Regions from separate parts of the Homo sapiens genome. Here regions 1, 3 and 4 are each linked to region 2. Evidence: fine-mapped expression QTL. A gene starts in region 2. Each other region holds a variant in brackets. All regions are shown on one strand. Distances are between the middles of the regions.

The links. PIP is the estimated chance that this variant, and not a neighbour inherited with it, causes the effect.
Region 1: its variant is fine-mapped to the expression of SLIT1 in neutrophils (BLUEPRINT, PIP 0.95).
Region 3: its variant is fine-mapped to the expression of SLIT1 in whole blood (TOPMed, PIP 0.94).
Region 4: its variant is fine-mapped to the expression of SLIT1 in gastroesophageal junction (GTEx, PIP 0.99).

The regions. Positions count from the first base shown.
Region 1 is chr10:97,250,665-97,253,349 of GRCh38, reverse strand. All of the region lies in intron 6 of ARHGAP19 (Rho GTPase activating protein 19), which reads left to right. The region is part of intron 6 of ARHGAP19-SLIT1 (ARHGAP19-SLIT1 readthrough (NMD candidate)); the gene reads left to right. Among named protein-coding and RNA genes, the nearest start is that of ARHGAP19, 41 kb to the left of the region's middle. The variant G/TG (reference allele first, on the strand shown) is at 1,026.
Region 2 is chr10:97,184,437-97,187,121 of GRCh38, reverse strand. SLIT1 (slit guidance ligand 1) reads left to right here and starts at 1,163. Exons shown (of 37, transcript NM_003061.3): 1 at 1,163-1,644. The coding sequence starts at 1,448. All of the region lies in intron 11 of ARHGAP19-SLIT1 (ARHGAP19-SLIT1 readthrough (NMD candidate)), which reads left to right. RefSeq lists enhancers at 318-818, 819-1,319.
Region 3 is chr10:97,220,667-97,223,351 of GRCh38, reverse strand. ARHGAP19 (Rho GTPase activating protein 19) reads left to right here. Exons shown (of 12, transcript NM_032900.6): 12 at 1-1,173. The region is part of intron 11 of ARHGAP19-SLIT1 (ARHGAP19-SLIT1 readthrough (NMD candidate)); the gene reads left to right. The region is part of intron 2 of LOC105378447 (a long non-coding RNA gene); the gene reads right to left. Among named protein-coding and RNA genes, the nearest start is that of SLIT1, 36 kb to the right of the region's middle. The variant A/G (reference allele first, on the strand shown) is at 1,195.
Region 4 is chr10:97,228,010-97,230,694 of GRCh38, reverse strand. It overlaps ARHGAP19 (Rho GTPase activating protein 19), which reads left to right. Exons shown (of 12, transcript NM_032900.6): 10 at 821-931; 11 at 1,470-1,548. It overlaps ARHGAP19-SLIT1 (ARHGAP19-SLIT1 readthrough (NMD candidate)), which reads left to right. Exons shown (of 15, transcript NR_037909.1): 10 at 821-931; 11 at 1,470-1,548. The region is part of intron 2 of LOC105378447 (a long non-coding RNA gene); the gene reads right to left. Among named protein-coding and RNA genes, the nearest start is that of SLIT1, 43 kb to the right of the region's middle. The variant T/C (reference allele first, on the strand shown) is at 998.

The sequences.
Region 1 (2,685 bases), 66 kb before region 2:
CTGAAGTGCAGTGATGCAATCTCAGCTCACTGCAGCCTCCGTCTCCTGGGTTCAAGCGATTCTCCTGCCTCAGCCTCTCGAGTAGCTGGGATTACAGGCACGCACCACTACACTGGACTAATTTTTGTATTTTTGGTAGAGACAGGTTTTCACCATATTGGCCAGGGTGGTCTCTAACTCCTGACCGCCCGCCTCGGCCTCCCAAAGTGCTGGGATTACAGGTGTGAGCCACCGCAGCCAACCTGAGATCCACTTTTTAGGTCCTACATATGAGTGAGAACATGTGATATCTGTCTTTCTGTGCCTGGTTAATTTCACTTAATAGCCTCCGGTTCCATCCATGTTGCTGCAATTTGACAGGATTTCATTCTTTTTTTATGGCGGAATAGTATTCCATTGTGTATATACGCCACATTTTCTTTATCATTCATCCATTGATGGACACTTACGTTGATTACATATCTTTGCTATTGTGAATAGTGCTGCAATAAACATGGGGATGCAGATATTCCTTTGAAAACTGATTTTCTTCCCTTTGAATACATACCCAGTAGTGGGATTGATGTATTATATGGTAGTTCTATTTTTAGTTTTTTGAGAAGTCTTCATACTGCTTTCCATAATGGCTATACTAATTTGCATTCCCACCAACAGTGTATAAGAGTTCCCTTTTCTTCACATCCTCATCAGCATCTGTTATTTTTTATTTTTATTTATTTATTTTTTTGAGATGGAGTCTCACTCTGTCACCAGGCTGGAGTGCAGTGGCGCGATCTCAGCTCACTGCAAGCTCTGCCTCCCAGGTTCATGCCATTCTCCTGCCTCAGCCTCCCGAGTAGCTGGGACTACAGGCACCTGCCACCACGCCCGGCTAATTTTTTTTGTATTTTTAGTAGAGACGGGGTTTCACCATGTTAGCCAGGATGGTCTCGATCTCCTGACCTCATGATCCGCCCACCTCAGCCTCCCAAAATGCTGGGATTACAGGCGTGAGCCACCGCGCCCGGGCTATTTTTTTTTTTTTT[G/TG]AGACAGTCTCATTCTGTCACCCAGGCTGGAGTGTGGTGGCATGATCACAGCTCACTGAGCTCAAGTGATCCTCCTACTTCAGCCTCCTGGTTAGCTGGGACCACAGGCGCATGCCACCACACCTGGCTAGTTTTTAATTTTTTGTAGAGATGAGGTCTTGCTATGTTCCTGCTTTATCATTTTTCCTAAAATTCTTCTTAACTATTACTAGTTCTGTCCTCTACTGTTATCAGTCCATCTCTTTCAGTCTGGTTTAACTCTTCCCAACACCACATCTTTTCCTAGAGATTTACAATGTATATACAGTTAAGGCCAATTTCTAATACTTGAGCAGTCCTTCTGTTGTTTCTCTATGAATTGTAAAATTCTTGTTTCTCTATAAATTTCTTGTTGTTTCTCTATGAATTGTAAAATACTTAAGAACTCAGACTTTCATGTAAGCCTATTTGTCTAAGCCTGGTGCCCTTTCTGGATATTTTTTCAGCTCATAGCATCTTTGGGGATGGTGGTTTTTGTTGTTTCTTTCCTTTTCTTCCCCTTTTCCCCTTCCCTTCCCCTTCCCTTCCCTTCTCCTTCCCTTCCCCTTCCCTTTCCTTCCCCTTCCCTTCCCCTTCCCTTCCCCTCCCCCTCCCTTCCTTTCCCCTTCCCCTTCCCTTCCCCTCCCTTTCCCCTCCTCTTCTTCCTTTTCCCTTCCCCTTCATCTTCCCCTTCCCTTCCCCTTCCCTTCCCCTTCCTTCCTTTCCCCTTCCCTTCCCCTCCCCTTCCCCTTCCCTTCCCCTCCCCTTCCCCTCCCCTTCCCCTCCCCTTCCCCTCCCCTTACCCTTCCTTTCCCCTCCCCTTCCCCTCCTCTTCTCCTTCCTTTTCCCTTCCCCTTCCCCGTCTCCTCCCCTTCCCCTTCCCTTCCCCTTCCTTTCCCTTCCCTTCCCCTTCCCTTCCCCTTCCCTTCCATTCCCCTTCCTTTCCCCTTTCCTTTCCCTCCCCCTTCCTTTCCCTTTCCCCTTCCCTTCCCCTTCCCTTCCTTTTCCCCTTCCCTTCCTTTTTCCCTTCCCTTCCCATTCCCTTCCCCTTCCCTCCCCCTTCCCTTCCCCTTCCCTTCCCCTTCCATTCCCCTTCCCCTTCCCTTTCCCCTTCCCTTCCTTTCCCTTTCCCTTCCCCTTCCCTTCCCCTTGGCTTTCCCCTTCTCTTCCCTTCCCTTCCCCTTTCTCTTCCCCTTCCCCTTCCTTTTCCCCTTCCCCTTTCCCTTCCTTCCTTATTTTCTTTCTTTTGACAGGGTCTCACTCTGCCCCCCAGGCTGGAGTGCAGTAGTGCTATCTGCTCACTGCAGCTTTGACTTCCCAGGCTCAAGCGATCCTCCCACCTCAGATTCCCAAGCAGCTGGGACAGGTGCGTGCCACCATGCCTGGCTAATTTTTCTATTATTTGTGGTGACAGGGTACTACCATGTTGCCCAGGCTGGTGTTGAACTCCTGGGCTCAAGCATTTCTCCTGCCTTGGCCTCCCAAAGTGTTGGGATTACAGGCATGAGCCACCGCTCTTGGCCTTCTTTCTTTTTTTTAAATGAAATAGAATAGATATATTCTTGTTTGGAGAAAATTTCTGTTGGTCTTAAGCTCCGTTTTATAGTTTTTCAATTTAGAAATTAAACTGGCTGGGCGTGGT
Region 2 (2,685 bases):
CCCAGCGAGCCACAGCTGTCCTTGGCGTTGAGGAGATCTTTCGTCTTTTCTGGGGTTGAGGAGAATTCTCTCCCCACCTGGATGTCCCGTTCACACCCACGTCCACACATGCCTTACGGTGACGAAGGTCCCTACCCAGCCGGGTGTGAGGCCTGGGTCTGACGGGGCTGGCCTGTGGGGTTCTCTCCCAAGCAGGCCGCCCAGCGCTATGCCAGCCCTCTCTGTCTCCTTTGATGTCAAGATGGAATATTCATTTTCATCTGTTTCCACCTGTCAGAAATGGAGGAACGCTGGTGTGAGTGGAGGAAGACGTTTGCCAGATTTCCAAGTCCCCTTAATGTCTGTCCCTCTCTTCTACAACGGGGGAAGAAGCCCGTGTAACTGTATGGTACAAATACGCCCTGCTGAGCAAGTGTTCCAATCAGAGCCATTCTCATCCTGGGCATGCGGCTAGCTTGTTCCCCTCTGAGAAGTGGGTGCATTGAGGTAGGAAGGAGACTGTACTCCGCCTAGCGCTTTCGTGGACCCTCCCCCCCGACAAAGCTCCATCCTCAAAGTCCAGGCTAAGTAAGGTTGGTGGCTTGAGGATGCTACCTGGGGCACAGGCACAGGGTTTCCCTTAACCAAGAATTGACACAGCGAGTCGGGTGGGGCCGAGAGGCCGCTGCTGCCGTCGGGGGATGGGGGGAAACGGGTCTGACTCCCCGGGAAGGCGTCCAAGCGGCAAAATAAGATCTCCCTCCCACCCTGGACTAGCAGCTGGGGCCGCGGGTGCCGGGGTGCGTGCGTCTAAATGTGCGCATCCTCGCCGTGTGTGTGTGTGTGTGTGTGTGTGTGTGTGTGTGTGTGTGTGTACAGCCAGGACTTGGCGGGTCGAGTCACACCCCCTTCCCTCTTCTCCCATCCCCCGCAGCCCCGTGCCCGCTGACGGCGCCTCGGAGGTTCCACCTTTGAAACTGTAGGCGGCTTGCAGCCGCTGAGTGGTCGTCGGGAGAGGGGGGCTGCGGCGGGGGAGGGCGGGGAGGAGCCTGGCCCTGGATGTGTGCTTTTCGATTGATGGATGACTGCCGGGTGGGAGCGAGCGCGCGGGTGTGTGTGTGATCGTGTGTGTGTGTGTGGTGTGTGCGCAGGGTGCGTGCGCGCGCGGGGCCTGCCCATTTTCCTCCTCGCAGCAGTCAGTTGGGAGCTGGAGGGAGGGAGAGGGAGACGCAGGCGGCGAAACGGCAGAGGAGCCGAGCCCCCTCCGCCCAAGGCGCCCTCCCTCCGTCCGCGCACAGGCGCCGTCGCTTGGAGGAGCAAGGTGCCTCCCAGCCCGCAGGGGCGCCGCGCGCAAGCCCGCGGGCTCTTCGGTGGCTCTGCCCCGGGACTGCACCTGGAGGCGGCCCCGGACGGGGATGGTCAGCGGCTGCTGCCGTCTGGCTCGCGAGCGGGACGCTGTGAGGGCACCATGGCGCTGACTCCCGGGTGGGGGTCCTCGGCGGGGCCGGTCCGGCCGGAGCTCTGGCTGCTGCTGTGGGCAGCCGCGTGGCGCCTGGGTGCCTCGGCGTGCCCCGCCCTCTGCACCTGCACCGGAACCACGGTGGACTGCCACGGCACGGGGCTGCAGGCCATTCCCAAGAATATACCTCGGAACACCGAGCGCCTGTGAGTATGGTCCCCGCCCCTGGCTCCCTGGCTCCGAGGTTGCCCTCCCACCCAGACGCAATTCCGGACTTGGGGGTGGGGGCAGGACCATTGGGGCCCGTCCGGGCTCCGCAGCCCACAGACGGGTCAGTGCCTGCCGGGGTCTTTCCCGAGCCAGGAGCCAGGAGCGCCGTGGTTTCCCCATCCCTGGGATTCAAAGGGCCCTCGGCGGGGTTGTCAGCTTCCGTCCTCACACCTGCACCCTGCACCCTGCACTCCGCACCCTCAGGCCCTCCTCACTGCGCCAGCGCTTTATTCCTCCAGGGTGCCTGCGAACTGGTGTCAGAAAGCCTTCCTTGCACCCAGGAGGGACACTTCCCACACTCGCCAAGCACAATGTCTCCTTTTGGGCACATGGGGCTACGGCCGCGTTCTGAGCCAGCTGCGCAGATTCCCGCTCCCAGAGCTTGCTCCTGACGAAGGGCAGCAGGGTGGGATGGAGGCGAAGTTTCTGGTCTGCCCCTTCTTCTCCATTGTTTGCCCCAGAGCCTTGAGAATTCTTCCCCTGCAGGTGCCACGCGTTGGTCCCCTACTCACCCGCCTCCCTCCACACCCAGCCATCCCCAACACAGGCAGACAATGGGACCTGAGGGCTTTGGGTATGGGGCTTGGGGTATGTAACATTCAGCACCCGAAAAGGGGCAGGTGTGTCTTGGATGGAGAACCCGGTGGATAATGCCAAGAAGTCAGGAGCTTGGAGAGGGGGGCCCAAGGTTAAAGATATTGACCATGACAAGTAATAAAAAAATAGCATTTCTCTTCCCCTGTTCTGTCTCACTTGTGAATTCTTGAGGAAACTTGATCCTTTTCTTTTCTAGACCCAGTAAGCTAGTAGAATGTGTGTGTGTGTGTTTGGGTGTGTTTGAGTGTGTGTATTTACAGACCTTTATACTTTGTTTTCTGTGACTCTCCTGCAGAATGTGTTTCTGTGTGAATTCCTAGTATTAAGGGGCCACCTTAATAGCGTGAGGCCATGAGAGTCCCCGTAATGGGCTGTGTGTG
Region 3 (2,685 bases), 36 kb before region 2:
ACCCTGCTGTAGTAGTGAAAGAGCATCAGGAGATACTGACTGTACCTGAGGGCCAAAACAGGAGCAGGTAACGAACCGTAAAAAAAGGAGCAGGTAATGAATCGTAACCAAAACTACAGTTGATCCTCCGCAAAGGAAAGCTCTTTACCCAGAATGTCCTTCCAGAGTCATTCAGGAAGGACAAGGGAACACCCTTGGGAAATGGGCTAGTGGAGGGCTGTTGACTGCAGTGACACCTGGGTGCTCCGGAGGTATCTGTTCTGTTGACCTGTAAGGAAGCAGTCGATCCTAGAGTGTCAGAACAGAGCCATTCTCTCCTCCTGAGTAGGAACGTTTCTGTTCAGTTTCCCTCACAGCAGCCTGTGTTAGCATGCAGTTGAAAATACTGCCGTCTAGGAGAACCTGTGGTCACTGGGAACGTGCCCCACAGTGACTGGCCATGCAACCAGGTGATTTTTAGGAATAGATGTCTCTAGACTCTGTCTCCTTTCCTACAAGGCCTCACACAGATGCTTGAGGCTAATGGCCCCCATTCTGAGGTCATTTTTGTGTAGAACTCCTTTCCCCAGGAGAGAGCCTTATCTCTGCCCTCCTTTACCCTGAAGGCTTCAAACGGAAGACAGGACCTAGATCTAAACCTAGATACTAGCATTTTGTGGGATTGTCTAGAATTTGGGGAAGATTTGGGTTCCTAAGATGCACAAGCGTTTTACACCAGTGGTGATTAACTCAACTAAAACCCACTGTAGGAAGTTAGCTTCCCCAGACAGCTAATGCCGAGATCTTCTACCAGCGTAGAGTTGACAGAAGCAGGCCAGCGAGGAGGTGTGGGACATAATAGCCTGAGTGCTTGGGTTACCATGGAGACTGGAGTGTGTGAGGCCACAGCCTGTGCTAAAGAGCCATGGAGCCCTCCCCTGGCCATGTCTGGGGACAGATAGAACCTGTTGGGGGAAATATTCCCTCACCCCAGGGTTCTTTCTGCAGAGCAAGGGTTGCCTTTGTCCTATCCCTGAGCTTGCTCAACAAGAGAAACAAGGTTTCTTAAGTGTTTTGGTTAAAGTTTTCATTCTTATTTGACTATGTATATGTAATTGTAAAGAAACGATCCTATGCATTGTCTTTCTTTTATATTCTTGTAATATTCTGAAATTAAAATTGTTTTGTTTCATATCCAGAGGATTTGACTGGTCT[A/G]TTCACATTTTGACTGTTGATGTTGAAGAGAGAGTTTTTCTCTTGTTCTGAGGAAAGTGAAGCCTCTAGAAAGGCTCCTCTTTGGCTTGTTTTTAGGTGGGTGGGTGGGTTCAGGAGGAGCGGGGCTTTTGGCTGATAAGAAGTATGATTTGGAGCCTCTGGGATCCTGAGCTTCCTAATTTCCCATGGCTGAGTCTAGAATGCTTCACATAGATTTCAGTTTCTCACATAATTTTTATTTCTTCATTTAAAAACAAGGAGTGATGGTTACAATAACAGGAAAACCTAGATGAAGTTTTCATCTGAGGCAGGAAGGTGTGTTTAGACAGCTCATGTTGAAATGTTCCTGCTGCTGTCTTGGTGGGCTTGGGCTGCTTTAACAGAACACCATAGACTAGGTGGCTTCTCAACATCAAAAATGTGCTTCTTACAGTTCTGCAGTCTGGGGAGTCCAAGAGCATGGTGCCAGCAGATTGGGTGTCTGCTGAGGGTGCACTCCCTGGTTCACAGACAGCCGTCTTCACTGTAACCTCACATGGTGGAAGGGACAAGGGATCTCTCTGGGGCCTCTTTTAGAGGAGCACTAATCCTATTCATGGGGGCCCTGCCAAAGACACTCCCAAAGACCCCTCCTACCAAAGACCCTACCTCCTAATATCATCACATTGGAGATTAGGTTTCAAAGTTAATTTGTGGGAATACAAACATTTAGTCTATAGCAGCTATTTTTTTTTTTTTTTCGAGACAGCATCTTACTCTGTCACCCAGGCTAGAGTGTAGTGGTGCGATCTTGGCTCACTGCAGCCTCCACCTCCCAGTCTCCGGTGATCCTCCCACCTCAGCCTCCCAAGTGGCTAGGGCTACAGCTGTGTGCCACCACACCCAGCTAATTTTTGTATTTTTTGTAGAGACGGGGTTTCACCATCTTGGCCAGGCTGGTCTTGAACTCCTGTACTCAAGTGATATGCCCGCCTCAGCCTCCCAAAGTGCTGGGATTACAGGCGTGAGCCACTGTGCCCAGCCTATGGCTGCAATTTATTAGGTATGTGACTTTGGGTAAGTCCCTGAATCTCCTGTCCCCTCATCTGTAAGGTGGGGAGAACGGTATACATCTCAATAACAAGGACTTCGCATGGAGGATTTTAATCTAAGGTCTGTGGTTATGCTTCAGGACAATAGTTTGCCCCTGTAATTCTATGTAAAATTTTATGTACATTTGCATTTTTCTAGGGGAGAGATTTCATAGCTTCTACGAGAATCTCAGAGGAATCCTTGACGATTAAAATACTGAGAATCACTAGCTTTACACAGTGCTGGCAGATGGCAATTATTCATTAAAGGTTAATTCTCTTTCTCTCTGCCAAGGGTAAATTTTATAATCAGCAGGTTATTGATGCTGACATAGCTACTTTGATGACAAAGATGTTGTTTAAATCCTGAATAGAAATAAACACTCTACAGTTGTCTTTACTCTGTTACCTACCCACACAC
Region 4 (2,685 bases), 44 kb before region 2:
TTCCTCCAGAACTCCTCTCATGTAAATTATTTATTAAATCAGAATGTTCTGAATATTGCTGCTCATATTTATAATGCAGGGTTTAATGTTCTAGTTTTGATATGTTCTTTTTTTAGAATTCAAATTTATTCTCTAAGGGAAAAAAAAATTTCTCCAAAGATGGTAGAATTGTCACTGTTGGCGGTTACCTAAACTACATCATCTTCTAAGCTGTTCAGAGATGAAAGGGCTTTTAGTCTTGCTCTGAATGTCAGTACAGTCATGTGACCCCCTTAAGAAGGCCTCTACCTTCTTGTGGCTATATTAGGAACTCTTATAGAATGTCTCCAAATGTTCCAGTCCTGTGTGAGTAAATGACAGGGAGGAAGAAGTGCCTTAGAGAAGAGCCAGCCTAAGTATCCCTCAGTGGTAAGTAGGGGGGAGGGACTTTTTAAATAGTTGCCAGAGACAGCACATCTTTGGGGAAAAAAATTATATGATGAGTAACTGGTGTTTCTATATTGTGAGTAACTGGTCTCAGAGGCACACTGTAATTGACCTATATTAGCTTGTTTAAATCAACTATAAAGTTGCTTCTAACCTTTCAGCCCTTTTAAATGTGGAGGAAAAGTGATCACTTAAACAAAAGTAATGATTTTGGGTTTTTTTGGTAACATGCTTTGGCCTCTCTTGTATAAGATGGCCTGAGAGGGTCCATACAGGATTATCAGAATGCTGAGATTTTTTTAACCCAAGGACATTACAGTTTTGAAGGCTAGTATAGCTCCACTGTAGATGCAGTAGGTGTTTATAAATCAAATGTTTTCTGTTCTTAAATCAGCGGAAGGTCCTGGGAAATCAGATGATGTCAGAAAAGAAAAAGAAGAACCCTACTCCAGAATCTGTGGCCATTGGTGAATTGAAGGGAACCAGCAAAGAAAATAGGAACTTAGTAAGACACTGTTCTTTGGACTGTCTGTCTGTCTGTATATATTTGTAGAAAAGAGGAAAATTGATA[T/C]ACTGTCATCTGTTTTACTGTGTTTCTTTGGGCCATTCAAATGGCTTTTTCTCAATCCTTTCATTTATGCTACCTTCTTTCTGTTGGTTTTCATTGACTCATTCAACAAACAAACACATTTTGAATTCAAGAATGATATCACTAGTCACAAGCAGATGAGTAGTACAGTACAGTAGCTCCTTAAACAAGTGCTGGAGGAAGCAATTAGTTCTTACTGGAAGATTCCACAGGTGACATTTGAGCCAGGCCTCCTAGGCTCTATATTACCTGTGGGGTGGTGGTTCAAGATATCCTAGGCATGCCTACTTCATTAAGCCAGCAGTAAATCAGTTAAGATTAATGAGATATAAATACATCAGTCTCAGAAAAACTCTTCACATTGAAATTGAACAAATAATTCATTTGTTAGTAAAGTCTGTCTATAGGAATGGCATTAGAACATTGAAACCACTGTACAATTTTCTTATTACAGTTATTTTCTGGCTCTCCAGCTGTCACGATGACACCAACAAGATTGAAGTGGTCTGAAGGGAAGAAAGAGGGGAAAAAAGGTACTAATTGTACTTACTCTCTGTTCTTACTAAATGTAATTCCTTTCTGCATCTAGTCAGTAGCATTTGTTTGAATTCCCAGGATAGTACATTTGTAGTCAGAAGTGACATAAAAATTACAAGGCCAGGTCCTTGCCCTTGAGTTCATTCACCAGATGGTTATTGAACCATTTACTCAGCATTGTCTTGGGTGCTAAGGGTAGAGCTGTGAACACAGACCCACATGGTCCCTGTGTTCTTGGACAGACAGGACACATGGGGGAAAATACCTTAAGAATACTTGCGAAGCAAATTAAAAACAAGTGTAAATGAATTTGTGAAACCAAGTTCAACAGTGCTGGGAGTATGCTTATGGAATAGTTAGGTTCCTTTTCTGTGTAGGCCAGCCCTAATTAGTGAAGCTTTCTAGATCAACAGCTCGTGCCTAAGGATCCTGGAAGTCATATCATACAGCATATTTTGGGGGCTATTTAGGACAAAGAGGACTATTTAATGCTGGGACTGCTGATTGTCCCAGGCTCTTCTGGTAAAAGCCTGCTGTGCCTTCCTCTGAAGGAGCCAAGTGGGTCAATGGAAAGACCGTGAGATTTGTGGTTAGTCCTGATGGGAGTTATCATTCCTCTGACCCAGGAAAACCACCCATTCTCTATGAATTCAAGTTTTCTCCTCTGAAAATGAGGATAAAAGTTACATCTACTTCACAGATTTATTAATTTATTATGAGGCTCAATTGAAATAATGTTTTGGCAGCACATTGTCATTGTTAAATCATTAACAAGTGGTTATAGTTGTTACTGTAGAAAACGGGCTGAAACCTGGTCTTGTTATATAAGGCTCATGTGGCAGCTGAAGTGAGTCTGGTTTGACATGATTGTTTTATCACTGGGATATGAGCATAATTACTATTTGAGACATCAGCAATAGGCAGAGATCAAAAGCCTAATCCTTATGGATAAATTCTTTTCTGGAAAATTAGATTTCAGTATATTCTTCTTACTTATCCTTGAATGAATTATCTAAACTCTCTTTTCTTTCCTCGTTGCTTCTGTCTTCCAGGCTGGGCTGTCTAATTGAGACAAGATGGGGGTTTGAGTTTTTTGTGTCTAAATATTTCTGTATGTCCATGAATCAAAACCA